Linked DNA regions of Homo sapiens. The protein of the gene in region 1 purifies or fractionates together with the protein of each later gene. This does not show direct contact. Each region holds a gene or a part of one and is shown on either strand. Other genes may lie near its edges. The genes, in order: EFNA2, MYO19, GPR107, OAF, PCSK6, JAG2 and METTL13.

Region 1 (4,289 bases):
GAGACCTGGAGCTCAGAACAGACGGGCTGAGCTCCCTGGAGGAGAGAGAACTGAGAACCTTGTCCTGGCAGGGACGCTAGAGCACTGGGTGGGACAGACCTTTCTGGAAGAGCAAGATTTTAACAGGAAGAAAAAGTGGAAGGACTTCCCAGCAGGACCCAGCCTGAACAAAGGTCAGGTGGTGTGGCCCGCGTGGCCCGCTGGGGAATCGGGGGAGGAGGGCACGCAGGAGACACAGGACAGAGCCCACCACGTCTCAGAGCTGTGGGACGGTGGTGGGTCCGGTCCCCACCCCACCTTGCTGGGGCACAGGTTAGCTTGCCCATCTCTGGGTTCACGGTCCCTGCCAGGAGTTTGGGTAATGCCTCACACAGGGACCTTCGGGTCCAAGGGCTGTTGGTGCTTGCCCTGCAGTTCCCTCTCCTGCACTGGGCCTGGTGAATGACACTAATTCAGAGACGTACAACACGATCTGGGCATCGCCAGCAAAGTCCAGCCAGCGTTTGATGACAGCCTACCCTCCACAAGCTCAGAGTCTGGTGAGGGAGGCTGTGGCATGAATAAGGGCAAAAACAGAGGGCAGGCCAGGTGCAGTGGCTCACGCCTGTAATCCTAGCACTTTGGGAAGCCCAGGTGGGAAGATCGCCTGAGCCCAGGAGTTCAAGACCAGCGTGGCCAACATGGCCAGACACTGTCTCTATAGATTGGAAAAAAGACAAAGCAGAGGCCAGGCCCCCAGTTCCCCACCTGTGTCAGCCTACCAGGAGGAGAAATCACTCGGCGTTCCCTGAACAGATCAGACCCCGGGTCTTTGCACAAGCTGTGCCCCCGGGCAGCGGCCCTCCCCTGCCTGCAGGATTCGTGCGTGGAGACTGATTTGCTGTCGGCCGGGGCTTCACTCTGGGCTTCTTGGATCCCATCCCCAGCTGCTCACACTCCACATCGGTCCACCTACTATGCTCCCGGCACCCTTAGGGCTGAGGTGTAGGGACTTACTCCATCCCCAGGGAACAGCGTGGGTCCGGAGAGGCGACTCCCAGGAGGGCCCCAGGGAGGTCGCAGCCCGAGCAGCTTTGGACTTTGGCCAGCGCCCCTCTGAAACTCTGCCCCGGCCCCCGCAGGGAGACTGGAGTTGGCCGAGCCCGATTTGGGACGCGTGCGTCGGGGTTGGTGAGGCTGCGGATAGCGCTGGAACCGGGCAGGTGAGAGGCCCGGGACCCAGGGCCGGGCCGGGTGGAGCGCGTGGGGGCGCGGGAGGCAGGGTGCGCCCCCGCCCCTCGGAGACCCCAGGCCGGGCCACGCGGATGCCGGCGGGGGGCGCGCAGAATCGGGGTCGCTGGGGGCAGGCCCCGGGGGACGAGCCTGAGACGGGGTGGGCCGGGGCAGGGGGCGGGCGCAGGCTGGAGACCCCCGCCCAGTCCCCGCGCGGCCGGGGCACGGCGGGAGGGGGCGCCCGCGGCCCTCCCGACGCTCGGGCGGGACAAAGGCCGGAGCCCGGGCCCCTCCCCGGCGGGTGCGGCGGCGGCGGCCCGCGCTCCGACAGTCCGCGCGGCCGGGTCCTGCGCCCGGGGCGACCCCGGCGCCCCGCCCCGCCGCCGCCTGACTTCTCGGCGCCCGAGGTCGCGCGCGCGGAGGCGGGGGCGGCCCGGGATCTCCAAGCGCCGCCGCGCCCTCCTCCCGCCCGCCCTCCGCCCGCCCGCTCGGCGGCGGCGGCGGCGGCGGAGGAGGCGGAGAAGGCTGGCAGGCGGCGGCCGGGAGAGCGAGCGCGGCGGCCGGACCGGGGCCATGGCGCCCGCGCAGCGCCCGCTGCTCCCGCTGCTGCTCCTGCTGTTACCGCTGCCGCCGCCGCCCTTCGCGCGCGCCGAGGACGCCGCCCGCGCCAACTCGGACCGCTACGCCGTCTACTGGAACCGCAGCAACCCCAGGTGAGCGCGGCCGCGCGCGGGGGGCGCCCGGGGACCCCCCAACGCCCCCCAAGCCGCGCCCGGCCTCGCGCCCCCGGAGCTCCGGGCGCCCCCCACGCGCGCGCCGCCGCCGGGATGCGGGCGCCCGGTTCCCGCGGGAGCCCCCCAGGGAGCTCCGGCCCCCCGGAGTTTGGGGGACTCGCCCTTTTCGCGCCTGCCTTCCCCGGGGCGCCCCATTGCCCTACGGACTGTGGGGACTCGCGCCCCACATCCCCCAGAGCGCCGACGTCTCCTGGAGTTTGGGGAACCCCTCTGGTACCCTCCGATGCCGGGTAGCCCCTGAGTTGCCTGCCTGGACTTGGGGGGACCCCTGATCCACCCGCTTCTCTGGGGAGCCCCCTCGGTTTCGCATTTGGTGGGGATCCCCGGGGACCTTGGCACCGGAGGTGGGGGACTGTGGCCCTCGAGGGATCTCTGGGTTCGTCCTGCCCGCAGGTCCCCAGATGAACTTGGGGAAGTTGGAGTGTCCCTCCCTCAGGACCCAGCATCTGCTTCACTCCAGGGGGCCAAGGGCCCAGCTTTGAAAGGAGACTGAGGGGCCGGGGAGCTGGGGGTCAGCCCCGGGAGGGGCAGTGGGATGGAGTCCTCTCTTGTCCTCTGGGCGCTGACCAGGAAACTGAGGTGCAGAGGGGATGAGGAGCTGGCTCAAGGTCATGCAAGGGGGGGACTTGGGGGCAGGACCCAGGTGGCCCAGTGCCCTGCCTGCCACGCCCGGCCGAGATGCCGCACCCGCCTGCTGCAGGCCCCCTTGTTTTGAACCAGGTCCGGGCCAGGCACAACGTGGGGGACAGGAGAAGCCCCCGTTGGTCAGAGCAAAAAAAGTTTGCCGGGGCCTGGCCATGGCCTGGACGTGGGTAGAACCCTCTGAACCATCCCAGGGTCTCCAAGACAGGAGCAGGCTGCAGCTTCCCTGGGGGTCCCGTGGGAGCCGGGGCTTTGGGGGTCCTGGGGCTCGGGAGGGAGTCAGCCCCAGCACTCAGGGTGTCACCGTCTTCCTAAGGCACACGGAGCTGCACATCGGGGGCTGAGGCGGCCCCCCCCCACTCTTCTGCTACTGGTCACTTTCTCTCCGTTTTCCAGCCGCTTCCTGTGCCGACCGAGCCGCCCTCTGGAGCCCGCCACCCCTCCTTGTCCCCTCTGTCTCCTGCTGTCCTCGGTCCCCGGGAGGAAAGTTGCATGAAGGGGTCTCTTTGAGGCGGGCTCGGGGACAAGGGCGGCCCGTGTTCCGCCGTGGGGGTGGGGAACACGCACAGGCCCACCCCCCACCCTGGTCAACGGCCTCGGGTCGGGCCCTGGGGGCTGAGGGCAGGGACCCCGGGCCGCTGGGGGACGGCTGGCCCACCTCAGAGCGGGTCCCCGAGCCGCCCGCTGTGCTGGTCACATGTGGGTTTGATTAAGGCTGTCGCTGGCCGTGCGGGGAGTCCAGCGGGCAGCGCTTCCCCGGCCCAAGTTTTTGGTTTCAGCTGCGGAATCTCCCGTCCCCAGCGTGGCCTGTCCTTTGTTCTAGCAAACGCCAAACACACGAGGACCCGGCAACCGGGGGAGGAAGGTGGTCACCAGGGCCGTCCTGCTGCCCCACCTGCCACAGGGCTGTGGGCTGCGGGCCGGACCCCCGGCCAGGGGAAGGAAGTGGCCTCCCCAGTGCCTGGCTTGGCCCAGCCACCTCCTGTTGCTCCGGGTCTGACCTGGTTGCCCAGCTCAAACCGCTGCCTGAGGGAACGGCCTTGCTGGTCCGCAGAGCCGACCTGGGCAGCACCGAGGCTGCCTCCTCCTTCCTCTCCTGCCTGCGGTATCCAGGGTTGCTGGGGACGGAGCCGACACCCTGCAGTGGGGCCCAGGGCTGGGTGAGCACCTTCCCGGGAAGCCGGGATCCAGCCAGAATCAGGGCTTTGTCGCGGACATCAGGGGTCTCTGCAGTTCTCAGATTTGGTGTCCAGGGGCACCTGCCCGGGACCTGTGCCTGAGTGGCGGGGGTGTCAGGCACAGCAGGGGGTGGTGCTGGGCCTCCGTATCCAAGGGGACCCTGTGGAGGGGACATCGGCTTGGGGAGAGGAGTGGCGTCAGCCGGCAGGCCTAAGGTGTGAGGCTGGGCTGGCCGGGGAGGGATGATGGGGTCGGGCAGGTGTGTGGGGGATGCGGGGACCCCAAGTCTTTGAGAGGGGCATACAGAAAGGCACTGGAGACGGGGACAGCCGCGATGGGGGGCAGACAGCAGCGTGGGCACCAGGGGACCGTGTGCTCGATGGGGCCTGCAGGCCCGGGCAGTGCCGCAGCGTCGCCGGCCGCCCCTTCCGCCCATTGGCCTGGCACCTGTGCCCAGGCGAT
Region 2 (3,500 bases), on another chromosome or scaffold:
CAAATATCTAACAGTGGTGACATCATGGCCAAATGATGGACTGGACCATCCCTATGATGCAGCTAAGTGTTTTTGAAGAATATTATAAATTTAATGGAGAACCACTTCCAAAATGATATTCATACCTAGATGTCAAACTACATATTAAGGGCGATGCCCTCCTTTTAAGGTGTGTTTGTGTGTGTGTAGGCATTAAAAAATTGTATAAGGAAGCTGGGCACAGTAGTTCGCTCCTGTAATCCCAGCATTTTGGGAGGCTGAGGTGGGAGGATCACTTGAGCCCAGGAATTTCATACCAGCCGGGCAACATGGCAAAACCCTTTCTCTACTAAAAATACAAAAATTAGCCAAGTGTGGTAGTATGCACCTATAATCCTAGCTACTCAGGAGGCTGAGGCAGGAGAATCACCTCAACCCAGGAGGCAGAGGTTGCAGTGAGCTGAGATTGCACCATTACACTCCAGCCTGGGTGACAGAGCAAGACTCTGTCTCAAAAAAAAAAAAAACAACAAAACATAATTAACCGTGCCTGGTGGCACATGCCTGTAGTCCCAGTTACTCCAGAGGCTGAGGCAAGAGGATTGCTTGAGCCTGGGAGATTGAAGCTACAGCCTTACGGAGGCTACAATAAGCTGTTCGTGCCACTGCACTCCAGCCTGGGCAAGACCCTGTCTCAAAAAAAAAAAAAAAAAAAAAAAAAAAAAGAAACAAAAAGAAAAAGAATATGCTGAAATTGCAGAGAAGGGAATAAAAATTACCACCATCTATTAATTGTATCAGTGTTTGGGTATATGGTGATGTGAGATCAGGGATGCATAAAGCGAACAAATTCAACTGAGGATTAAAAACAAAACAAAAAAAAAAGTTTTTAAAGGCACAGACAATCCAGACCCCTCCCATTCCCTGGGTGCTGACCTGGACCCAGCCTGAGACGGGAAGTGATTGCTGGGCCCTCAGCCAGTCCTTCTCCCCAGTGCCCCTTCACTGTGTTGTGTAGGTGTATTCAAGTGTGTGGGCAGTGTAAGGAATGTTTAAAAGCCAATTTTGCCTTATGTATTGATTTTAGAACCTTATTTGTAGCAATTTATTGAAAAAAAAAAAACGTATTTGAAACTTTGACAGCAACTGTGGTGCTGCTGCAGCGAGGTCACTGACAGCTCTAATGGCCCCTTTATTATCTCTTTCCTGTTTCTGGGCAAACCTCTTAGCCATTCGTTCCTGGTTAACTCGGAAACACATCCAGAGGCTGCATGCAGCTGCCACAGTCATCAAGCGTGCATGGCAGAAGTGGAGAGTAAGTAAGACCCAAGAAGTCGGGGTGGGCAGTGGATCAATTTTGGGGACCAGATGGACCCGAGTGGGAATGCTGGCTCTGCCACTGCAATGCAGGTGGCCTTGGGCAGGTTGTTTAGCCTCTCTGAGCCTCATATTCCTCATGTATGCAGTGGGCACAGTAACACCTACCCTGCAGGGTGGTTATGTAGGTGAAGAGTGGTATAAGCAACTCTGGGAATATACCAAACTCTGGGATGTACACTTTAGAAGACTGGGTTTTATGGCATATCAGTTATATCTTGATGGACTCTTATCTTGTTTTCAAGTAGCATATGTAAGGCCTAAGCACAGTTGCCTGGGGTGTATAGACTTGTGGCATATGGAACCAGTTTGGTTCAGGGCAGCCAGCTGTTTGCAACCAGGTGCCTTCAGTTCACCTTGTTAAGATGATTTGTTAAAGATAGTTTTGATTTCCATTTTCTGCTAAGAGGGCTAGATAAATCTAAAGCTATAAAGGGATATTTGCTTTTTAAGATCAGAATGGCCTGCCTTGCTGCTAAAGAGCTGGATGGTGTGGAAGAAAAACACTTCTCTCAAGCTCCCTGTTCCCTGAGCACCTCGCCGCTGCAGACCAGGCTCCTGGAGGCAATAATCCGCCTCTGGCCCCTGGGACTGGTCCTGGCCAATACGGCTATGGGTGTAGGCAGCTTTCAGAGGAAATTAGTGGTCTGGGCTTGCCTCCAGCTCCCCAGGGGCAGCCCCAGTAGCTACACTGTCCAGACAGCACAAGACCAGGCTGGTGTCACGTCCATCCGAGCGCTGCCTCAGGTACGTTGTGTGTGATGGCCATGACAGCTTTGTTCCTGAGAACAGCAGGAGCAAAGCCTACAAGTTCACAGCGGGAATGAGACTGAGGCTGGGACAAGATCCATCCCTAACCCTACTGGGTAAACCAGAGGGCTGCATGTCCCAATCAGCTGCAGGTTTGGATTATTTATTTTGTTATAACTGGGAATCTTCCAGAGCCCTTTATCTTTTTAAAAACTGCTTCTAATTATTTCAGCATCTCTAAATCTTCTAGTCCCATTTCCAAATGCAATGCTGCGTTTCTAGCAAGCTCCCAGCTGATTCTGATGCTCCATGAACCACACTGTGAGAACCAAGGCTTTAGATGAGTCAGGAGCAGGAGGTGATGAAAGTTTAGCTTAGGGCCTGGAGCGGTGGCTCACGCCTATAATCCCAGTACTTTGGGAAGTCGAGGCGGGTGTATCACCTGAGGTCAGGAGTTCAAGACCAGCCTGGCCAACATGGCGAAACCCCATCTCTACTAAAAATACAAAAATTGGTTGGGCGTAGTGGCAGGCGCCTGTAGTCCCAGCTGCTCGGGAGGCTGAGGCATGAGAATTGCTTGAATCTGGGAGGGAGAGGTTGCAGTGAGCCGAGATTGCGCCGCTGCACTCCAGCCTGGGTGACAGGACGAGAGTCCATCTAAAAAAAAAAAAAAGTTTGGTTTAGGGTAATAATAGGTCAATTACAGAAAAGAGGAAAAATTCACGAGACATAGCAAAAAAGAAACTACCCAAGACTTGAGAGCAAATAATCTAATTAGTCCCACATCACAACTTGGGTTGTGAGGAGTTTGTTACCTCAAATGGCACTGGATTTGGCACCATGTTTTCCCCAAATTGTATTGCTTGGTTTTTTCCTTTTCTGGCTGACGAAATGACAAGCAGGGTCAGTGGTCCAAGTTCTCTGTGGGTTTTTTTTTTTTTTCATGTTATTTAATTTTTTGAGACGGAGTCTCACTCTGTCGCCCAGGATGGAATGCAGTGGGTTTAAGCGATTCTCCTGCCTCAGCCTCCCGAATAGCTGGGACTACAGGGCATGTGCCACCATGCCTGGCTATATTTTTTTTTTTGTATTTTTAATAGAGACGGGGTTTCGCCATATTGGCCAGGCTGGTCTCAAACTCCTGACCTCAAGTGGTCTGCCTGCCTTGCCCTCCCAAAGTGCTGGGATTACAGGTGTGAGCCACCGTGCCCAGCTGTTTTTATATAAGCATCCAGGGAAAAGTCAGCCAGCACACTCAGGAAGTCATTGTCACTCAGGGCTTTGTGAGTCACCCCAGTAAGCCAGGCCTCATAGAATTAAAGTGGCCGAGGAAAGGTGAAAGTATGTTGCACTGGGAGGTAGAACCCCAGGGTCTGGATCCTGGTTCTGCCCCA
Region 3 (3,500 bases), on another chromosome or scaffold:
TGGGGGTCTTTCTGTGTTGCCCAGGCTGGTCTTGAACTCCTGTCCTCAAGTGACCCTCCCACCTCAGCCTCCCAAAGTGTTGGGATTATAGATGAGAGTCACCAGGCCCAGTCCTAACTTTTTTTTTTTCTTTTTTTTTTTTTTTTTTGAGACAGAGTCACACTCTGTGGCGCAGGCTGGAGTGCAGTGATGCAGTCCCAGCCCACTGCAGCCTCGACATCCTGGGCTAAAGCAATCGTCCCACTTCAGCCTCCTGAATAGCTAGGATGCCACCACAACTGGCTAATTTTTTTTTTTTTTTTTGCTAGAGATGGGGTTTCTCTGTTGCCTAGGGTGGTTTCAAACTCCTGGGCTCAAGCAGTCTGCCTGCCTCAGTCTCCCAAAATGTTGGGATTATAGGCGAGAGCCACCTCGCCTGGCCCCTCACCCTTTTTTTTTCTATCAAATGTTACTGAATATAGCTTTTTACATTTAATGTTGTATCATGATTACTTTCCCTTGTTAGGAAATGATAATGTGAAAATGGCTCTCATATCAGATCTAGTTTGAAGCCCCAGCTTTATTAGCTATAGTCTGCTTGGCCTCAGGTAGTCATTTCTCCTCTGAACTGGTGTCTTCATCGCTACCGTGGGGCTGCTTCTCTTAACCACACTGAGCTGAGCGAGGGTCAGAAATCATAGGTAAAGCCCTTGGCACATAACCTAGTTCTTGGAAGACTCTGAAAACTGGGAGTTGTGATGCTGTTGTTATTATCATTATTATTATTATTACTATTTTTGTTTTGTTTTGTTTTTTGCGATAAAGTCTTGCTCTTGTCCCCCAGGCTGGAGTGCAATGGTGCAATCTCCGCTTACTGCAACCTCTGCCTCCCAGGTTCAGGCGATTCTCCTGCCTCAGCCTCCCAAGTAGCTGGGATTAACAGATGCCTGCCAGCAAGCCTGGCTTATTTTTGTACTTTTAGTAGAGACGGGGTTTCACCATGTTGGCCAGGCTGGTCTCAAACTCCTGACCTCAGGTGATCCGTCCGCCGCGGCCTCCCAAAGTGCTGGGATTACAGGCGTAATCCAGCCTTATTATTATTATTTTTGAGACAGTCTTGCTCTGTTTCCCAGACTGGAGTGCAGTGGTACAACCCGGCTCCCTGCAGCCTCTGCCTCCTCGGTTCAAGCACTTCTGCCTCAGCCTACCAAGTAGCTGGGATTACAGGCACACACCACCACACCTGGCTAATTTTTGTATTTAGTAGATATGGGGTTTCACCATGTTGGCCAGGCTGATCTTGAACTCTTTCTATTTATTTATTTTTTTATTTATTTAATTTTTTTTTTTTTTTGAGATGGAGTCTCGCTGTCGCCCAGGCTGGAGTGCAGTGGCGTGATCTCGGCTCACTGCAGGCTCCGCCCCCTGGGGTTCACGCCATTCTCCTGCCTCAGCCTCCCGAGTAGCTGGGACTACAGGCGCGTGCCACCTCGCCCAGCTAATTTTTTGTGTTTTTAGTACAGATGAGGTTTCACCGTGTTAGCCAGGATGGTCTCAATCTCCTGACCTTGTGATCTGCCTGCCTCGGCCTCCCAAAGTGCCGGGATTACAGGTGTGAGCCACCGCGCCCGGCCTTGATCTCGAACTCTTGACCTCAGGTGATCTGCCTGCTTTGGCCTCCCAAAGTGCTGGGATTACTGCCATGAGCCATCGTGCCCAGCCGATGCTGTTTTTATTGTTTAAAATAGTCTTCAAAAACCTGTTTTTCATGGCATTGTATCATCAAATGAAATGATGATGCAAAGGTTTAAAAAAAAGGAATGTACTATTTATGTTGGGGGGGGAACTGCTATCAGGTTGCAATCGAAACATTTTCTGGAAAAAAAAAACAAAACAACAAGAAAACCTGTATTGTGGTGGCCTAAGTATAAATGAAAGCCTAGCAGGTTTCCATTCTGCTGCAAAGCAGCTTCATGCTGGACCAATTAGAAAAGACATACTTTTAAAATTAAAACTTTATTGAAATGTAATATACATGGCTAAAAATTACTCATTATAAGCAAACAACTCAGCGCATTTCCAGAACGTAGACACACTCATGCAGCCCGCAGGAAATGAGGCAGAACCATTACCAAGCCCCTCCAGAAGCACCCTAAGCCTCACCTTCCCTCAAGTCCCAGGAAAGCCCCTTTCTCCTGAGAGTGGTCACTGTCTTCACCTCCGTCACCACAGATGATTTCCCCCTGCATTCCAGTTTGTTTTACATGAATATGGCTGTGATTCATATACGTTGTTTTATGTGGCAGAAATTGTGTGTTCATTTTCCCTCATCCTCTCCCTCTGCAGTCCTGCTCCACTGAGGATTCTGCCAGAGAATGAAGCCCTAATGTGCTAAGGCATCCATTTATGTAGTTGAGTTAATGTCTCCTGTGCCTCTAGGAGGGTAGTCATCATATACTGTCCTTGAGAGAATTGAGAAAATAGATACTGAAGACATTTTCCGTGGGTTTAATTCTCTCAGAGAATTCCAAGAAAGGCTGGGAGCCTTAGCTTTTCTGGCTTTTACCATTGACCCACTCTTGTAGATTCCAGGAGATGACCTCTGTTATCTTATCTGGCTTTTCTAATTGTTCTCTGTGAGAATGTTGGTTTGCTGCAAGCCACTCCAGCCCACCAGGAAGTGGAAATCCAGCAAACATGTTTTCACCACATAGCCAAGCTCCTAAGAAAATAAGGGAAATTCCCAGGGGCCCAAAAAAGGGAAGAAGGAGCTGAAACTCCATTGGGGAAAGAACAGGGAAGCCAGGGCTTCCCTGTGACGTTGCAGAAACTTGAAGCCCAGAGGCCTGGGTTTTTTGTTTGTTTTGTTTGTTTGTTGTTGTTGTTTTTGAGACAGAGTCTCACTGTGTCACCCAGGCTGGAGTGCCATGGCACGATCTCGGCTCACTGCAACCTCTGCTTCCCGGGTTCAAGTGATTCTCCTGCCTCAGCCTCCCAAGTAGCTGGGATTACAGGCATGTGCCACAATGCCCGGCTAATTTTTTTGTATTTTTAGTAGAGACAGGGTTTCCCATTTTGGCCAGGCTGGTCTCGAACTCCTGACCCCAAGTGATCCTCCTGCCTCGGCCTCCCAAAGTGCTGGGATTACAGGCGTGAGCCACCACGCCCGGCCGAGTCCTGGGTTTTTAACAGATGTTGAGGGGAAACAGGGACCATAGCCTTAGGCCTGAGCAGGGAGGTGAGTTGGAACTGTGTCCCTCTGCTTCTCAGCCCATAATCTAGGGCTGTCAAAAAGCTATGAATGCAAGAGTGGGCAGGAAAGAAAATCCTGCTAGTGATAGTGCAGTGTGGTGTAGTTCTGTGGGGGAGAGGAGGGGATTTAGTTTATGCTGTTTCTGCCAAAGATCTGCTCCACAGCCTGTCCTCACAGGCCTTTGGTGTTTGCCATTAGACTACCCGGGATGTCCAGGAAACCCCAAATCTAGAAATAAAAAGTTACCCTTCACACCAAGAATCAAATT
Region 4 (3,500 bases), on another chromosome or scaffold:
CCCTCACTGTGCGAAGTCTTCCCTCCCTCATGCCACCCCCAGCCCCAACCTTAAGGGGACAACGAGCACTCCCTCATCCACCCTTTACCTCCATTGCACTTGGAGTAAACCTCAATCCTAGGCCTATTGTTTGCTGACTTGAGTTGTCAGAAGTCAGCCTCCTCCACCATCCCCTGGAAAACAGGAATCTGTGTCTTGGCCAAGGCCACTCCCCTGCCCAGGTGTTTGTGAAGGCCCTGCCCCATGTCCTGCTAATCAGTGCTCTCCCACTGATTGGCTGATTACTTGCAAGCCCCAGAGGAGTCACCTGACCTGTCTAGGCCATAGGTACATCTAGAAGAGAACAATCTCAACTCCTGGGTCTTCAGGAGTGGAGTAGATTTCAGGTGGAGCAAGGCAGACATAGAGCCAGGAATTGCAGCCACAAGAGAGAAACTGAAAGTTCAGCCCACTGTGTTCTGAAACCTTTCACTCATTTATTCCCTGCAACAGTCCCTTGAGGTAGATACTATCATTTTATTCAGCTTGCCAATGTGGAAACTATGGTACAGAGAGGTTAAGTAAATCCCTTCAAGGTTATGTGGCCAGCAGAGGCAAAGCCAGGATCTGAACATGGGTAACACTGGCTCCAGAGCCTTTGTTCTTAAATTCTGTGCTATCCTAGAGCCTACCTACTCCTTACTTAAAACTACAGACGAGGACCCTAGCAAACACTATTTCCCCAGGGTACTTGCCACACCCTCTGCGTGGCCCAGATCCTGGCCCTGGATGTAGTATGCTCCAGTTCTTCCAGGTAGGCTGGAGATTCCTGGAAGCTTGTGGGAGAAGGAGCCTTATAACAACCTCCCGTCTTGGGGACCCTATCCTGGGTCCTGAGCCTCAGGAGCCTGCCTGCAGTCCCTGTTGTAGGCTCTTCCCCAGCTAAGCATCTGCTTTAGGTGTTAGGCCACATGAAGTACGTCATCCCAACAGATTCCTGGGCAAGGAGGAAGGCTGGGAGTCAGGCTTCCATCTGGCCTGGGCTTAGCATCTGAGGGGACTTTCACCCTTCCCTGTGAAGGTTGGAAGAAGAGGGGGCCCCAGAACCTTGCCAGGGAGTCTGAGGTGCAAGGAGTGGAAAGCGGGAGGGACACTGGTCAGGATGATGGAGTCCTGTTACCAAATAGACCCAGAAAGTAGGGCTGCCCACTCCTTCTCAGGGATCAGCAAGTGGAATGTGCTTTTCTGGGGAAATAGGACGAAAGGGCCGGGCGCAGTGGCTCACACCTGTAATCCCAGCACTTTGGGAGGCCAAGGCAGGCGGATCACCTGAGGTCAGGAGTTCGATACCAGCCTGGGCAACCTGGTGAAACCCAGTCTTTACAAAATACAAAAATTAGCCGGGCATGGTGGCACATGCCTGTAATCCCAGCTACTCCAGAGGCTGAGGCCGGAGAATTGCTTGAGCCTGGGAGGCGGAAGTTGCAGTGAGCCGAGATTGCACCACTGCACTCCAGCCTGGGTGACGGAATAAGACTCGGTCTCCAAAAGAAAAAAAAAAAAACAACCATGCACACAAAGGAGAGACCGGAGAATTTGTAGTTTAAAAAGTCCTGGCAGAGGCCGGGTGCAGTGGCTCACGCCTGTAATCCCAACACTTTGGGAGGCCGAGGCAGGCAGATCACAAGCTTAGGAGATCAAGACCATCCTGGCCAACATGGAGAAACCCTGTCTCTACTAAAAATACAAAAATTAGCTGGGTGTGGTGGCCCATGCCTGTAGTCCCAGCTACTCAGGAGGCTGAGGCAGGAGAATCGCTTGAACCCGGTAGGTGGAGGTTGCAGTGAGCCGAGATCGCGCCATTGCACTCCACCCTGGTGACAGAGTGAGACTCTGTCTCAAAAAACAAAACAAAACAAAAAACAAAAAAAGAAGTCCTGGCAGGGCAGGCAGGCGGGTTAGAAGGGTATTCCTGCCTCCTCTTCTCTTATTTGTGTCATGCTGTTTGGTAGTTGCAGGAACCACGAGCCAGAGCCGCCACATTCGAAGGCAGGTGTGCTGACTTAAGGCAGGCTGCCGCCAGATGGGCATGATGGGGAGCGGGTCCTAATCCCACCTCTGCTGCTGGCCAGCTCAGGCATCAAGGGCAGACCGCACAACCTCTGTGTGCCCGAGTTCCAGCTTCTTTAGCTGAGCATCAAGGAGATGAGACTAGCTGATCCAGGAGGCAATTATGGATTCTGGTTAAGAGAGCTCAGGCTTTGAAGTCAGACTGTCTGGATTAAGATCCTGGCTATGTTTCCTCTTAGTCCATGACGTTGAACAGGTTACCTAATCCAAGCTCGGTAACAATCATAGCTCCTACCGCCTGTTGTAAGGATTTTAAAAAGGATCATACATCCTTTTGACCCATGGAAACAATGTTTTTTCTCTTCTAGTTACAAATTTCAGTAACTCTTTTTCCTATACAAATAGGAGATACAGAGGAAATCCTCTCAGTGAGAAATTATCATTCCCTTCCTGCACCCCCTGTCAGTTCCCATTTTGACAGCATTTTGTTATTGTCATTGATGACATTATTAATATAGAAGCAGGAAAAAAGCTCAAATAGATTTCTTTCATCCTCTAGTCTGGTCTGAAAGTTCAAATACCTTCTTTTGCCAACGGTAGTCAGGTGATGTCACCAAGCAAAGAGACCCCTGAGCAGCCCTGAGACTTCCGGATATTTCCTGCACCTGCGGTATTGGAGAAGATGCTGTGAATATCCAGATAGGCTTCTCTCCAAAGAGTCAGAGCTGAAAATACCAGGGAAGTGGTTTTTGGATCCTTCCTGGGGGATCCTGCCAGGGACATGGCCTGGCTCAAGCTCTAGCAGGGGAAGTCTGGTATCAAGTCTCACCTGGCAGGAATTGAGCCCAGAATGGAATATGCTACAGGCAGAGCAGCCTCCCATCTCTCCTCAGCCGACCTGAGTGAGGGGAAGATCAGATAGCCCAGGCTGGCAGGACAAGGAGATTGCAGCACCATGACCAAGAAGGGATTTCCTGTTGAGAGGAAGCAGGGGTTGGCTGAGCTCTGATCACCTTCTTCACAAATCTCTGGGATCATAAGGAACCTAATGGAACCTTCCTCAACAGCTGAGCCTCAGTTTCCCTTTCTGGAAAACCTCCCCCTATACTTCCATACCTCATCGTTCCAGAGATGATTTACAATAATGGCAAGTAAGAGAAACTCTGTAGAGTTAAAGGACTGCAGAAATACATGGGCATTTATGAGATGACATGCACTCGTTTGTTGCAGACCACCTACGATGCTTGCTGGTCACCTACAAGAGTAATCCCAGCTAGCGCTGACCCCATGTGAGAATCTTCAGATAACTTACTTAGTCCTCACCACAACCCTGTCACATAACTGGGATCATCCCCATTTTACACATCAGAGAAATTAGGGGAAAGCCTGGAGGACTCACTAATACATTGCAGCTTCGGGGCGGAGCTGTGAGTCCCTTGCCGCATGTATTG
Region 5 (4,021 bases), on another chromosome or scaffold:
ATGAGCAGGGATGGAACTGTCAGAGGTGACATATGCGTACCATGTGAACACAAACAGCTTCCTTCCCTTACTTCACCCCCATTTACTCATCTGTAAGTCAAAGCTAATAATATCTACATCTTATTTATGAGTCACAAATTCTCCTGGCTGAAAAAAAGGCAAATAAGGTTTTCAAAGAGTTCTTATTGAGTGGGTAGAGGCTCAAATGCTCCAGGCCTTTTCCACATTAGCAGTGCACTTAGAGGGGGGAAAGAAAAGCTCGTTTTGGAATAAAGAGTAATAGGCCCTCCGTGAGTAATCACACACAAGCCTCTGAGACAGCTCCTATCCCCAACCAGCTAATCTCTGTTAGTGAATGTCACCGCAGTGCCACTGCCAGCACCATGCCTGAGTGACCGGGCTGCGTGGCATTCATGCTGGCTGCACTAGACAGAGCTGGGGAGACCCCGATTAACTCCCCAGAATATCCTGGGTACGGAGTGTGCATCGGGGCGAATCTTCTCTCCCATCCGCAAAACCAGGAGAGCAGACTGCACTAAGAACTCAGTGAGCCTGACAGAGGTTGTCTCAAAGGGGCGGCATGGCCAAGGGTTAGGCATTTTTATTCCCACAGATAGAAATTTCCGGGGAGAGTTACCTGTGCCTCTCTGCCTCTCTCTTGCAGTGTGAGCTCACAGCTCAATTTCAGCTCCATTCTGCTCATTTAATTTTAGAATCCCAAAACCCAGGCACTTTGTAATTTATCGCGTAGTTTAAGAGTCACTTTTAGCTGAAGACAAATTGCTGGGCCACCTGGGCACAGCAGCGAAGTGTGGCAGGAGCCAGGGGCACTACGCAAACATGAGGAACACCTTCTTCAGCCTGGACAATCAGCCAGGGAGAGTCAAGAACTACAGAGACAAACGAAGTCAGTGCTACCCGACGGCAAAATCTGAAATCACAGGATGTTTGGAGGGCCTTGAGTGGTTAAAAAAACTAAATATCTATATGGATATACATGTGCGTATATGTATGTGTGTATATGTGTATATATGTAACATTTTATATATATATATGCATATATTTAAAAGGTCTCCAAAGATGTGCTAGCATTCTTTCAGTAAACTCGAACCTGCCTTGTGAAGATTCCTTCATTCGAATGGTGGAATCCACCCCTCCAGCCACACACCTAATAGTACATCAACGTGGGGCTTGGGATGCAGAACTAATGTCATTTCTATCAATCAGGGACGCCACCACACCTTGCTGGCTTCTGCCACGGATAACGATGAAACTACATTTAACACTGCCTGGCACTAAGGTTTAGAGTTATGAGTCGGTGCTTCCCTGTCACTTCACTTAACCCTCTGAGTGTGTAGTTTGTAGATTTGTTAACTGCACTGAGAGGTCCCCTGGTGTGACCTCAAAATAACGGCCTCTCCAGGAGCCATAAACATGGATCAACCCCAACTCACCGCCCCTCAGCCCGGTAGCTGGTTGAGAGAGGAAAAAGGGACCCGCCGGGAGGTCCTTTGAGGGTAATGCCGCCTTTGTGCCCAGGGCGTGGCCTGCTTGCTCACTGACAGAAGAGGGGACAGCCGAGGGCTGCGGGGCTGGGAGGGCCCCGTGGGGGCCGGTGAGGGTCAGGCCCCGGTCCAGGCTCTGTGGCAACGCAGCATTAGATCTTTCCGACAACCCAGCGGTGTAGACATTGCCACTGACTGCAAAGGAGCTTGTCAGGGGAGCGACTTGCCAAAGGTCACACCGCTCGGCCATCAGAACCGCGGCAGAAGCCCCCACACAAAGCGCCCTCCCTCCGCTCCTGGAGAGGTTTTAAACCCAGGACCCCCGGCCCTGCGCTGTCCCAAGGCCTCTCCGACGGCGGCCGGGCTCCAGGGTGCAGGCTCCCGGCCATCTACCCCCGGGAGCCGCGGACACCGAGGGAGCGCGAGTCCCCGAGACGCCGGGCCACGCTCATGTCACCCAAGCAGCGGCCGCGGCCGCCTTGGCGCGCGCACCGGGTCCGGAGCTCGCGCCGCCCGTCGAGGGCAGAGGGGCCGCTCCCCCGCGGGGGAGAGCCGGGTGGGCGCCCAGGACCCAGCGGCGGACGGCGCGCGACGCCTGAGGCAGCCCAGACTCCCCCGGAGCCCGGCAGGTGTCCGCGCCGCCCCGGCTTCTGAGGCCACACTTCCGAGCGCGGGGTTGGGCGGCACTGCCGGGGGACTTGCGGTCGGCGCGCCGGACCTGCGTGGGCGCCCACGCGGGACCCCAGTCCCCCCCACCCCGCCGAGTGTCCCGCGCGCGCCCCCCCGGGCGACACCCCCCCCCGCAGGGCGCCCCGGCCGCCCGCCGTCCCCAAGCGGTCCCGGAGCCTTCCCACGCGCGCGCGGGGCCGGGGCCGGGCGGACAGGACTGCGGAGGCGCCCCCCTCGCGCGCGCCGGAGGCCGCCGGGAAAGTTTTGGGCGCGCGGGGCCGGCCGCACTCACCTGGCCCAAGTTGAGGTACCCGTGCGCCGCCGCCACGCGGTCCGCCTCGGCCGGGCCGCCCAGCACTTGCACCGCCCAGTGGTTGGTGTAGACGGGGCGCGGCGGGGGCGCGGAGCAGGCGGCAGGCAGCGCCAGCAGCAGCAGCCAGCGCCAGGGACGCGGCGCGAGCGGCCGGAACCCGGGCCCGCCGGCGCCCCCCGCGCCCCCCGCGCCCCCCGCGCCCGCGGCGGTGTCGGTGGCGGCGGCGGCCCGGGGCGGCGGCCGGGGCCCGGGCGCAGGCGGCGCGCGCGGAGGCATAGCGGCGACAGGCTCGCGCGGCGCCCGAGCTGCGAGTGCGCCGGGGGGTGGAGTGCCGCCTTTTAAAGCCGCTCCGCGCCGGGGAAGCGCCGCCGCCGCCGCCACCGCCGCCGCCAACACCGCCGCGGGCGGGAGCCGGGGAGGAGGAGGCGGCCGCGGCGCGTTCCCGCCCCCGGGCCCGCGCTCCTGCGACCGGGCTCCGGGGCCGAGAGCCGTCCGGGAGGCCCGAAACGCCCCCCACCGGGGGAACTTCCCCGCCGACTTCTGGGGCTCTCGGGACGCGGTGCCGCCCCAGAGGCGTCCTCGGCCCGCGAGTTCTGCTGGGAGCGGGGAGGCCCCGGCGTCTCAGGTGAGTCCCCGGTTCCCTAGACCGGCCGGACACCCGAAGGCCGCACTCACCTGGCGGGGGCCTCAGACGCCTGGCGGCCTCGCCCGCCTCCCTAGACGGAGGGCTCGCCCGTGTGCGGGGTCCCAGGGAGAAGAAGCTGCGGGGAAGACAGTGGGTCGCCCGGGACCAAGCCTGGCTGAAGGGACACATTGAGCGGGGCAAAGGCATGTGGCGCATCAGCCGGGCTCACGAGCGTGTACCCGAGAAACCACCGCACGGAGCCCATGGCGGAGGCCGCGGCCCATGCTGGGAGGCAGGCCGTGCAGGTGAACCCCCAGGCCGCGCAGGTGAACCCCCAGGCCGCGCAGGTGAACCCCCAGGCCGTGCAGGTGAACCCCCAGGCCGCGCAGGTGAACCCCCAGGCCGTGCAGGTGAACCCCCAGGCCGTCCGCTTAGCCTCGCTGCGATCTTGGGCAAATGACTGTGGTGGCTGAGGGCAGGCGCCCCACCTGCAAAATGCGGGGAACAGTGGCATCTACCCCGTCGGGCTGATTTGAGGATGAGGTCAGCTTTTGCTGTACAATAAGCTGTCCGTAAACGTTCGTTTTTATGAGCCCAGGGCCTGCCGTGTGGTAGGTGTTCACTAGACGATGTACACTCTTAAAAGCACCCACTGAGCTGGGACCAGCAGTAGAAAGTCAGCTGAATCATCCTCACCCCTGCTTCCTGGAGCAGCCTGGTATCCAGTGGATAATGATTTGAAGCACCCTGGAGATGGATGGAAATGTTCACACCATAATCAAGGAATTATGAAGGGTAAGGATCGCTGCTGGATCTCTTCTGTCATCCCTCCCAGGACCCATTGGTCCTACTGGCCCACTTCCAGAAAGCAAGCCATCAACCTGCTTAATATAGGAAGTAAAACAAAAA
Region 6 (3,500 bases), on another chromosome or scaffold:
GCTTTTGGGCTCCTTGGAGTAAAGGGAATGAGAGGGCCTTGTGGAAGAGGAGTGGGGGAGTCTGGGCTCTGCATTCGCTCCCTCCACCCCCTGCCCCCTGAGTGACTCTCCCACCTTGTGGTCTCTGCTGTTGACCCAGGCCTGGCTGGGTGGCCCTCTGCCCCCTGGCCTGGCTTCTTGTGGCCGGGGTCTGTGTGCTATTAGTCATGGATCTGTGCTGGTCTCGGGCTCAGCTTCCCTCAGTGGGTGGGCCCAGGGTCTTGAATGTGGAGAGGTGGTGGACCACATGCCAGCAGGCTGCCTGGCTGCCCCTCCTCTCCTGGCTCCACCCCCAGACGTCCCCAGGAGGCCGGTGTCAGCCTGGGTTGGTTCTGGTGCCTGGCTTGTAGCTGGCAGGGTGAGGCCACATTCTCCCAGCTGCGTGTGTGCACGCACCCCGGGTGCTCTGTAGGCATGGCAGGTGGTGATGGAGGTTTGGGGAGGAGTAGTGTCATGCTGGGGGCAGCAGGGAGCTTTGCTCTGGGGCCTGGTAGGTGGCAGGCCCAGGGGACACCTGCTGGCTGAGGGAGGAGCAGGGTGGTGGCAGTTGGCCGTGACCTGGGCAGCCAGGGCCCCACCCTCAGAGGTGCAGCTGGAAGTCGTGCCTGCCTGGCTGGCCCATCTCTGGAGCCAGGAGCCCAGGAGCCTGCCTGCCAGCGAGGGTCTTTCTTGTTCTGTCTTGGCATGTGTGTGCTGGGCTCCAGGGCAGCTGTGCGGGGTGGTGTGGCTGGAGCATGGTCCCCGTGACAGATCTGGGCTTATGAGGAGAACGGGATGGGTGAAGGCCCTGTAGATACAGGAGGTGGGCCTGGGGCTGACCCTGCGTCTATCAGCTCAGGAGGCCTGAGGTCCTGGGCCATCAGAAGGGCTGAGCTTTTCTCACCTGTGAAAGGGGCACACTGCCGCTTTTTCATTGCAGGTCTCACGAAGTCAGATGGGGCTGCTGGACTCCCAGCTCGGGCTCTGCTTGTGCCCCCAGCCCGGCTCCCAGACCTGTCCAGTTCCTCCCCTTCCCAGCCTTCCCTACCCTCTCCTTTGCCCCCTAGGGAGGAAGGTTTTTACAGAGCCCACCCCCTGCATCCAGCCGCCCTAGGGCTCAAGGTGGGCCAGGCTGAGGTCTGTGCCTGGAGCTACCTAAGCTGCTCGTGGCAGGTGTGAGGTTCAGCACCACTCTGCTTCCTGTTTTTTCTGAGCTTGGGCTGGGGATGACAGGGCCCTGGCCTCCCCACCCTACCTTCAGGGGATCCTGTCTGCACACTGGGGACCACCCCCCTCCTTCCCACACCTTCCCAGTAGGGACCAGGAGAGCTGGCTGGTCTGGTATGGAATGTGGGCATCTGGGTTCCTGTGTTGGGTGGGCATCGGTCTGTTCCTCCTGCCATGGCCCTGGGGCCCAGAGCCCTGGGGAGAACTCAGGGCATGTCCGCCTTGTACATTGGGGGTCTGGTTCAAAGCTTTGGTATGGGGGCAGGGTGGGGCATTCAGTGCCCAGGCAACACGGGGACCATTGGAGCCAGGGAGGACTGCCCTTGGCCAGGGAGGATTGGAGAGTGGGCTGGGGGTTTGTCGCTGGTCCCTGAGGGTGGGCTGAAGGGTCAAAGCCGCAGCACGATAGGAAGGCTGGGAGGTGGAGGGGCGGGTTGGGGAGCAGGCGGCAGGCCTGGGTGGGAGGGGACTGCTGCTCTCAGGGGCCCTCCTGGGCTGCTCCATGGTGTCTTTATGAGGGGAGCAAGCTAGGCCAGTGAAGGGGTGCTTGTGGAGCCAGGCTTCGGCCTGAGCTGCTGCTGGTGGTGGAGTGGGGGCAGGAAGACAAGGATCTGCAATCCCAGGCCCCAGCCACAGTCGCTATCCCCAGACCCCAGGCCTGAGCGGGGTCCCTGTCCCCAGACCCTAGGCCTGATTGGAGTCCCTGTCCCTAGACCCCAGGCCTGAGTGGGGCCCCTATCCTCAGGCCCCAGGCCTGAGCTGGGTCCCTGTCCCCAGGTCCCAGGACTGAGCAGGGTCCCTGTCTGCAGACCTGAGGCCTAAGCAGGGTCCCTGTCCCCAGACCCCAGATCTGAGTGAGGTCACTGTCCCCAGACCACAGGCCTGAGCGGAGTCCCTGTCCTCAAGACCACAGGCCTGAGCGGAGGCCCTGTCCCCAGACCACAGGCCTGAGCGGAGTCCCTGTCCCCAGACCACAGGCCTGAGCGGGATTCCTATCCCCACATCCCAGGCCTGAGCAGGGTGTGGCTGGCATCAGTTGTACCCTGGGCTTTGTGGCAGGTGCTAGCCGGCCCTGGCTGCCACCGTCTTCACGGTGGGGGACCTGGGACCTAGAGGGGGTGTGCTGGGGAGTGGGGGTACACCCAGGCAAGGCCCTGGCTGGTCTCTGGTGTGGAGCATGGGTGTGTGTGTTCCTGCGTGGGATGGGCTTTGGTCTGCTCCTCCTGCTGCGGCCCTGGGGCCCAGAGCCCTGGGGATGGTGTTTGCCCCCACCCCTTCTTCCCTGCCTCGGGTGACAATGGTGGCAGAGGCCTGGGCCTCTCAGAAGCTCAGGTTTCAGGAAATGTATCTGTGCTTGGAGCTCCTGGCGCCTGCACCAAGCGCTGTGCTCCGTAGGGGGCGGGAGGCTGATGCGGGAGGCCGAGGAGAAGAAACCAAGTCGGGGCGTTGGTGGGGCAGCAGGTCTAGGAGGCTGTGTTGTGTTGGCCTGGACCGTGCAGGGCCCTGGACCTGGGGGGGCCGTTAGCGGGGCAGCAGGGAGGCTGTGTTGGCCTTGACCGTGCAGGGCCCTAGACTTGGGTTGCCTGAGTTTTGGGATGCTGTAGATTGGGGTACAGTGGGCAGTGGGGTGCCGTGGACTTAGGGTGCTTGGCATTTGGAGTACCCTGGGCCATGAGGTGTGCTGGGCCATGCAGTGCCCTGGGCTGGGGGTGCCCTGGACCTGGAGTGCCCTGAGCTTTGGGGTGCCCTGGACTGTGGGTACACTGGGCCATGGGGTGCACAAGGCTGTGGGGTGTACTGGATCTAGGGTGCCCTGGGCAGGAGGGTACTCTGTACTTTGGGTGCCTTGGACCTGAGGTGTCCTGGGCTTTAAGGTGCCCTGGACCTTGGGGTGTGCTGGGCCATGCAGTGCTTTGGGGCTCTGGGGTACCCTGGGCTTTGGGGTGCCCTGGAACTGGGGTGCCCTGGGTCTTGGAGTATGCTGGGCCATGCAGTGCCCTGGGCTGTGGGATACTCTGGGCTTTGGGGTGCCCTGGACCTGGGGTACCCTGGGCTTTGAGGTGCCCTGGCCTGGGGTGGAACATCTATTGTCTTGTCTGCCTGTCCTCTGGCTTGTGCCACTGCTGTTGCCCCTGCCTGGGGACAGGAGGAGGGGTTTAGACTTAGCCTTGAGGGTTCGGGCTGGGGAGGAGGCAATCAGATGGTGGGAGATGAAGTTGGGCTGCGGGTCTGCTTGTGCGGTGGGGGTGGGTCAG
Region 7 (3,500 bases), on another chromosome or scaffold:
AAATCCTGTCTATAGAAAGTAGAAAAATTAACTGGGCATGGTGACACACACCTGTGGTACCAGCTACACGGTAAGCTGACGTGGGAGCCTAAGGAGGTCAAGGCTGCAGTAAGCTGCGATCATACCACTGCACTCCAGCCTGGGCAAGAGTAAATCCCTGTCTCAAAAAAAAAGACTTCTTCACTATAAGAATTATTAGACCCTCTCTAGGAAAGGGAAGAAGAGTGGCCAAACAATCTTGCTCATGATTACAAGGCAGCAGAGGTGCAATGTCCCTTGCCCTTGACTCAAAAGGCCACACCGTCTTCTCAGACACCCTCACCAAGTAAGGGTAAGCCATTCAAGTTCCACAAATCACAGGAAAACAAAGGCCCAACTCCTACTCCTAAGCACAGAGCACAGCCACCACAGGGGGATCAAAGGAAGACAACAAAAGTCACCCGAAGGAGACAGACCCTGAGAATTAAATCTAAGAACTGAGATTCTAGTGACATACATCAACACTAAGATAGGACAAAAGTATAGGGTATTCCAAGAAGGCACATTCAGGGACTTCAGGTGAAAACGGTTACAATCACAGACAAAACATGAACAATTTCACTAATGCAGTCAGATCCAAACCTGCTATTAGCGATAAGGCTATGACTGCATTAACTATAATATGAATCTTTTCAGAAAGTAGAAATTCAAGATAGAATTGCATCTTTTGTTCAAATAATGCATTACAGAAAAGCTGAACAATTAAAATCTGTGTATTTTTACATATCTCATTGAATACATGATATACCTTAATTTTAAAAAGAAATGAACAGAAAAAATACCACTTAGACTCTAACATATTTCAATACAATTTCAATATAACAGGTTGAGTTTGAGGCAACAGTTAATTAGAATGCTCATTAACTTATAACATGGTTGAGATGAAGAAAGATACATTGTCAGCTTGTAATTGCTGTTCTTCAACTACAATGCAAGTGACACCAATTGTTTAGGTCTGTAATCTTTATGCTCCCTTCTGTGGAAGGCAGTGGCATCTCTCTCACCTAGGAGTAGCTCTGGGTTTCTCAGCAGGGCAAGGCCAGCGATCATGGCTTTGTGGTGTTCACAACACAGGTAACTCTTATCAATGGACTGCCCCGGGGCTGCAGGGAGGTCCTCCGCATCAGCAGGCCGCTGCTTCTTCCTGTCCTTTTTCCGCTTCTTCTGGGCTAAACAAGAGATATGAAGCCCTATGCTTAGTACACTAGTCCTCAGGAAGCAAGGGTTACTGGCAGCAGTGTGCTCCAGATGGCTTGAACACTCAAAAGACCCAATCGTTAAAATTTTGCAAACTGGTTGACATCATGTTGATAGCTTGAAACTGGCCGTAGTGAAATCATCTGGATGTTTGTCCCCTACAAATCTCACGTTGAAATGTGATCCCCAATGTCGGAGCCACCATGCTGGTCACGGGGGCAGATCCCTCATGAATGGCTGGGTGCCTTCCCCATGGTATTGAGTGAGTTCTCACTCTAGAGCTGTTGTTGAAAAAAGCCTGGCATCTCTTTTGCTCCCTCTCTTGCTATGTGATGTACCTGGTCTCCCTTCACCTTCTGTGATAATTGTAAGCTTCCTGAAGCCTCACCAAATGCAGAAGTTGGTACCATGCTTCTTGTACAGTCTGCAGAACCATAAGCCAAAATAAAAGTCTTTTCTTTACAAATTATCCAGTCTCAGGTATTCCTTTATAAGCAACGTAAAACAAACAAATACAGTGGTGGTATTTATACTAGAGAACTGATAAACACTATAAATTAGGATGTGCCCCCCCTACCCCGCCCCACAAAGACATAGTCATTAAACATTTAACATATACAATGGATACAAGGAAGCTGGAAAAGGAAATGGCAAATGCACACTCAAAAACCTGGGAAAACTCAACTGAGGAGCCCTGGTACCTCCCGTCTAAGAAATGTAAGGCCACTAACAGGAGAAAAGATTACTCATAAAGTCTTTTAAAGAAAGGTAAAGTTACTAATCACCTGCTATGTGCCAATTACTATACCGTAACTTTTATTTTTTTAGCTCTTCTAACAACCTTATCATTCCAATTCTTGGCACATGAACACACTAAGCCACTGAAGTGTTAAGTAAATAGGGAATCAGCAGATGGTAGAGATAGGAGTTGATCCTCGGACTGCCTGTCTCCATCACCTATCATCTTTCTGCTATGCCACACAGGTAGCACTACCAACCTTTGCTGAAGAAGGAAATCACAAGTATTCAAAAAAGGAAATAAATCCTAAAAAGCCACTCCACTTTCCCTCTCACCACTCCCTTCCCTGCTCCAGGGTATCATACTAAACGGATGGCTGTGTCTTCATAGGGATCAGCTGCATTCCCCAGCAGTAAAAAGTGCTGATGAGTGGAGTCGGGGTGCTTTTCAGATATATTAAATCACTTTTTAATATGCTCTCCTTCTTGCTCACCAATACTCCCATGAGGGAGAACGTTCTTTCCATGAGAACAAAGTGCTACCAAGAAATCAAGGAACATGACAATGGTGAAAAAACCTGAAACCCAAACTGAAAGGGGCAAAATGTTCTTTTAAGCAATTTTACTGAGATTTTAGTGAGATGAAACTGGACCAACCTGCAGCCACAGTGACCAAACAATAGGGCAGAAACCCAACAATCTTGGGTGCTCTTGGCCAGGGAAAACCCCTAAAGAAAAATACCATTTCGCTGGGTAACTTGATTCTAGGCTCAGAGCCAGTCTATGACCTCAAGCATCTGAATTCTCTGTCTCCACCCTCCTCCCAGATGGCCTTGCTATGAGGGCAGGCCAGTCAGGCAAAGGGAACAACTGGGAATCAGGAGAGCCATTTCAGCTTCCATCCTTGAATCTCTGCGCCTCAGACAGGGAAGATGCACTGGAGACGGAGAGGTGAGGGGCATTCACTTTTCGCGGTCTATATTTGACTTTTGAAGTGATTTCAATGAACAAGTATCACTTTTAAAATACAAACTAACACAGGTAAAACAAACTATTGATTCCCCATCGGGGGAGTTTCTGAGTGACAGCTGGGAGACCACTTAAAGGGATCCTAGAAGAGATGGTTTAGATCTACACTGTCCAATACTAGCCACTAGCCCCCTATGGCTGTTGAAATATAAATGTAAATTAATTAGAATTAAAGAAAATTAAAATTCAGTTCCTCAGTTACACTAGCCACATTCCAAACGCTCAGCACTACATATGGCTAGTCGCGACCACATTAGAAACTCAGGAACTAAACATCTCCTTCATCACAGGCAGTTTTACTGAACAGTGGTATACTAGAAGGCCTCTAAGTCACCCGCCAATCCAAAACCCTCTGAAACAGGTGAGTCACACTATGGAGGGCAGGGCTCACCTGCAACTTCCATAGTTCTGGCTCACCTCACAGAGGCCTATTGAAACAATACACAGATGTATATGGAGCACCTGCAAAACAGATGCCTTTAAACCGAAGACATTAA

The links.
Region 2: the proteins of EFNA2 (region 1) and MYO19 purify together in Homo sapiens (affinity purification with mass spectrometry; one large-scale study listed by BioGRID and IntAct). This does not show direct contact.
Region 3: the proteins of EFNA2 (region 1) and GPR107 purify together in Homo sapiens (affinity purification with mass spectrometry; one large-scale study listed by BioGRID and IntAct). This does not show direct contact.
Region 4: the proteins of EFNA2 (region 1) and OAF purify together in Homo sapiens (affinity purification with mass spectrometry; one large-scale study listed by BioGRID and IntAct). This does not show direct contact.
Region 5: the proteins of EFNA2 (region 1) and PCSK6 purify together in Homo sapiens (affinity purification with mass spectrometry; one large-scale study listed by BioGRID and IntAct). This does not show direct contact.
Region 6: the proteins of EFNA2 (region 1) and JAG2 purify together in Homo sapiens (affinity purification with mass spectrometry; one large-scale study listed by BioGRID and IntAct). This does not show direct contact.
Region 7: the proteins of EFNA2 (region 1) and METTL13 purify together in Homo sapiens (affinity purification with mass spectrometry; one large-scale study listed by BioGRID and IntAct). This does not show direct contact.

The regions. Positions count from the first base shown.
Region 1 is NC_000019.10:1,284,384-1,288,672, forward strand, and holds the start of EFNA2 (ephrin-A2 precursor), read left to right. Parts: upstream 1-1,489; 5' UTR 1,490-1,785; coding exon 1,786-1,925; intron 1,926-4,289. UniProt on the Homo sapiens protein: Cell surface GPI-bound ligand for Eph receptors, a family of receptor tyrosine kinases which are crucial for migration, repulsion and adhesion during neuronal, vascular and epithelial development.
Region 2 is NC_000017.11:36,496,869-36,500,368, reverse strand, and holds part of MYO19 (unconventional myosin-XIX), read left to right. Parts: intron 1-1,056; exon of another isoform or gene 1,057-1,208; coding exon 1,209-1,294; exon of another isoform or gene 1,295-1,809; coding exon 1,810-2,103; exon of another isoform or gene 2,104-2,602; coding exon of another isoform or gene 2,603-2,763; intron 2,764-3,500. UniProt on the Homo sapiens protein: Actin-based motor molecule with ATPase activity that localizes to the mitochondrion outer membrane. Motor protein that moves towards the plus-end of actin filaments. Required for mitochondrial inheritance during mitosis.
Region 3 is NC_000009.12:130,070,906-130,074,405, forward strand, and holds part of GPR107 (protein GPR107 isoform 3 precursor), read left to right. Parts: intron 1-3,500. UniProt on the Homo sapiens protein: Has been proposed to act as a receptor for neuronostatin, a peptide derived from the somatostatin/SST precursor.
Region 4 is NC_000011.10:120,221,032-120,224,531, forward strand, and holds part of OAF (out at first protein homolog precursor), read left to right. Parts: intron 1-3,500.
Region 5 is NC_000015.10:101,486,908-101,490,928, forward strand, and holds the start of PCSK6 (proprotein convertase subtilisin/kexin type 6 isoform PACE4-AI preproprotein), read right to left. Parts: upstream 2,801-4,021; 5' UTR 2,764-2,800; coding exon 2,467-2,763; intron 2,247-2,466; exon of another isoform or gene 1-2,246. UniProt on the Homo sapiens protein: Serine endoprotease that processes various proproteins by cleavage at paired basic amino acids, recognizing the RXXX[KR]R consensus motif.
Region 6 is NC_000014.9:105,162,277-105,165,776, reverse strand, and holds part of JAG2 (protein jagged-2 isoform a precursor), read left to right. Parts: intron 1-3,500. UniProt on the Homo sapiens protein: Putative Notch ligand involved in the mediation of Notch signaling. Involved in limb development.
Region 7 is NC_000001.11:171,788,160-171,791,659, reverse strand, and holds part of METTL13 (eEF1A lysine and N-terminal methyltransferase), read right to left. Parts: intron 1,209-3,500; coding exon 1,044-1,208; intron 1-1,043. UniProt on the Homo sapiens protein: Dual methyltransferase that catalyzes methylation of elongation factor 1-alpha (EEF1A1 and EEF1A2) at two different positions, and is therefore involved in the regulation of mRNA translation.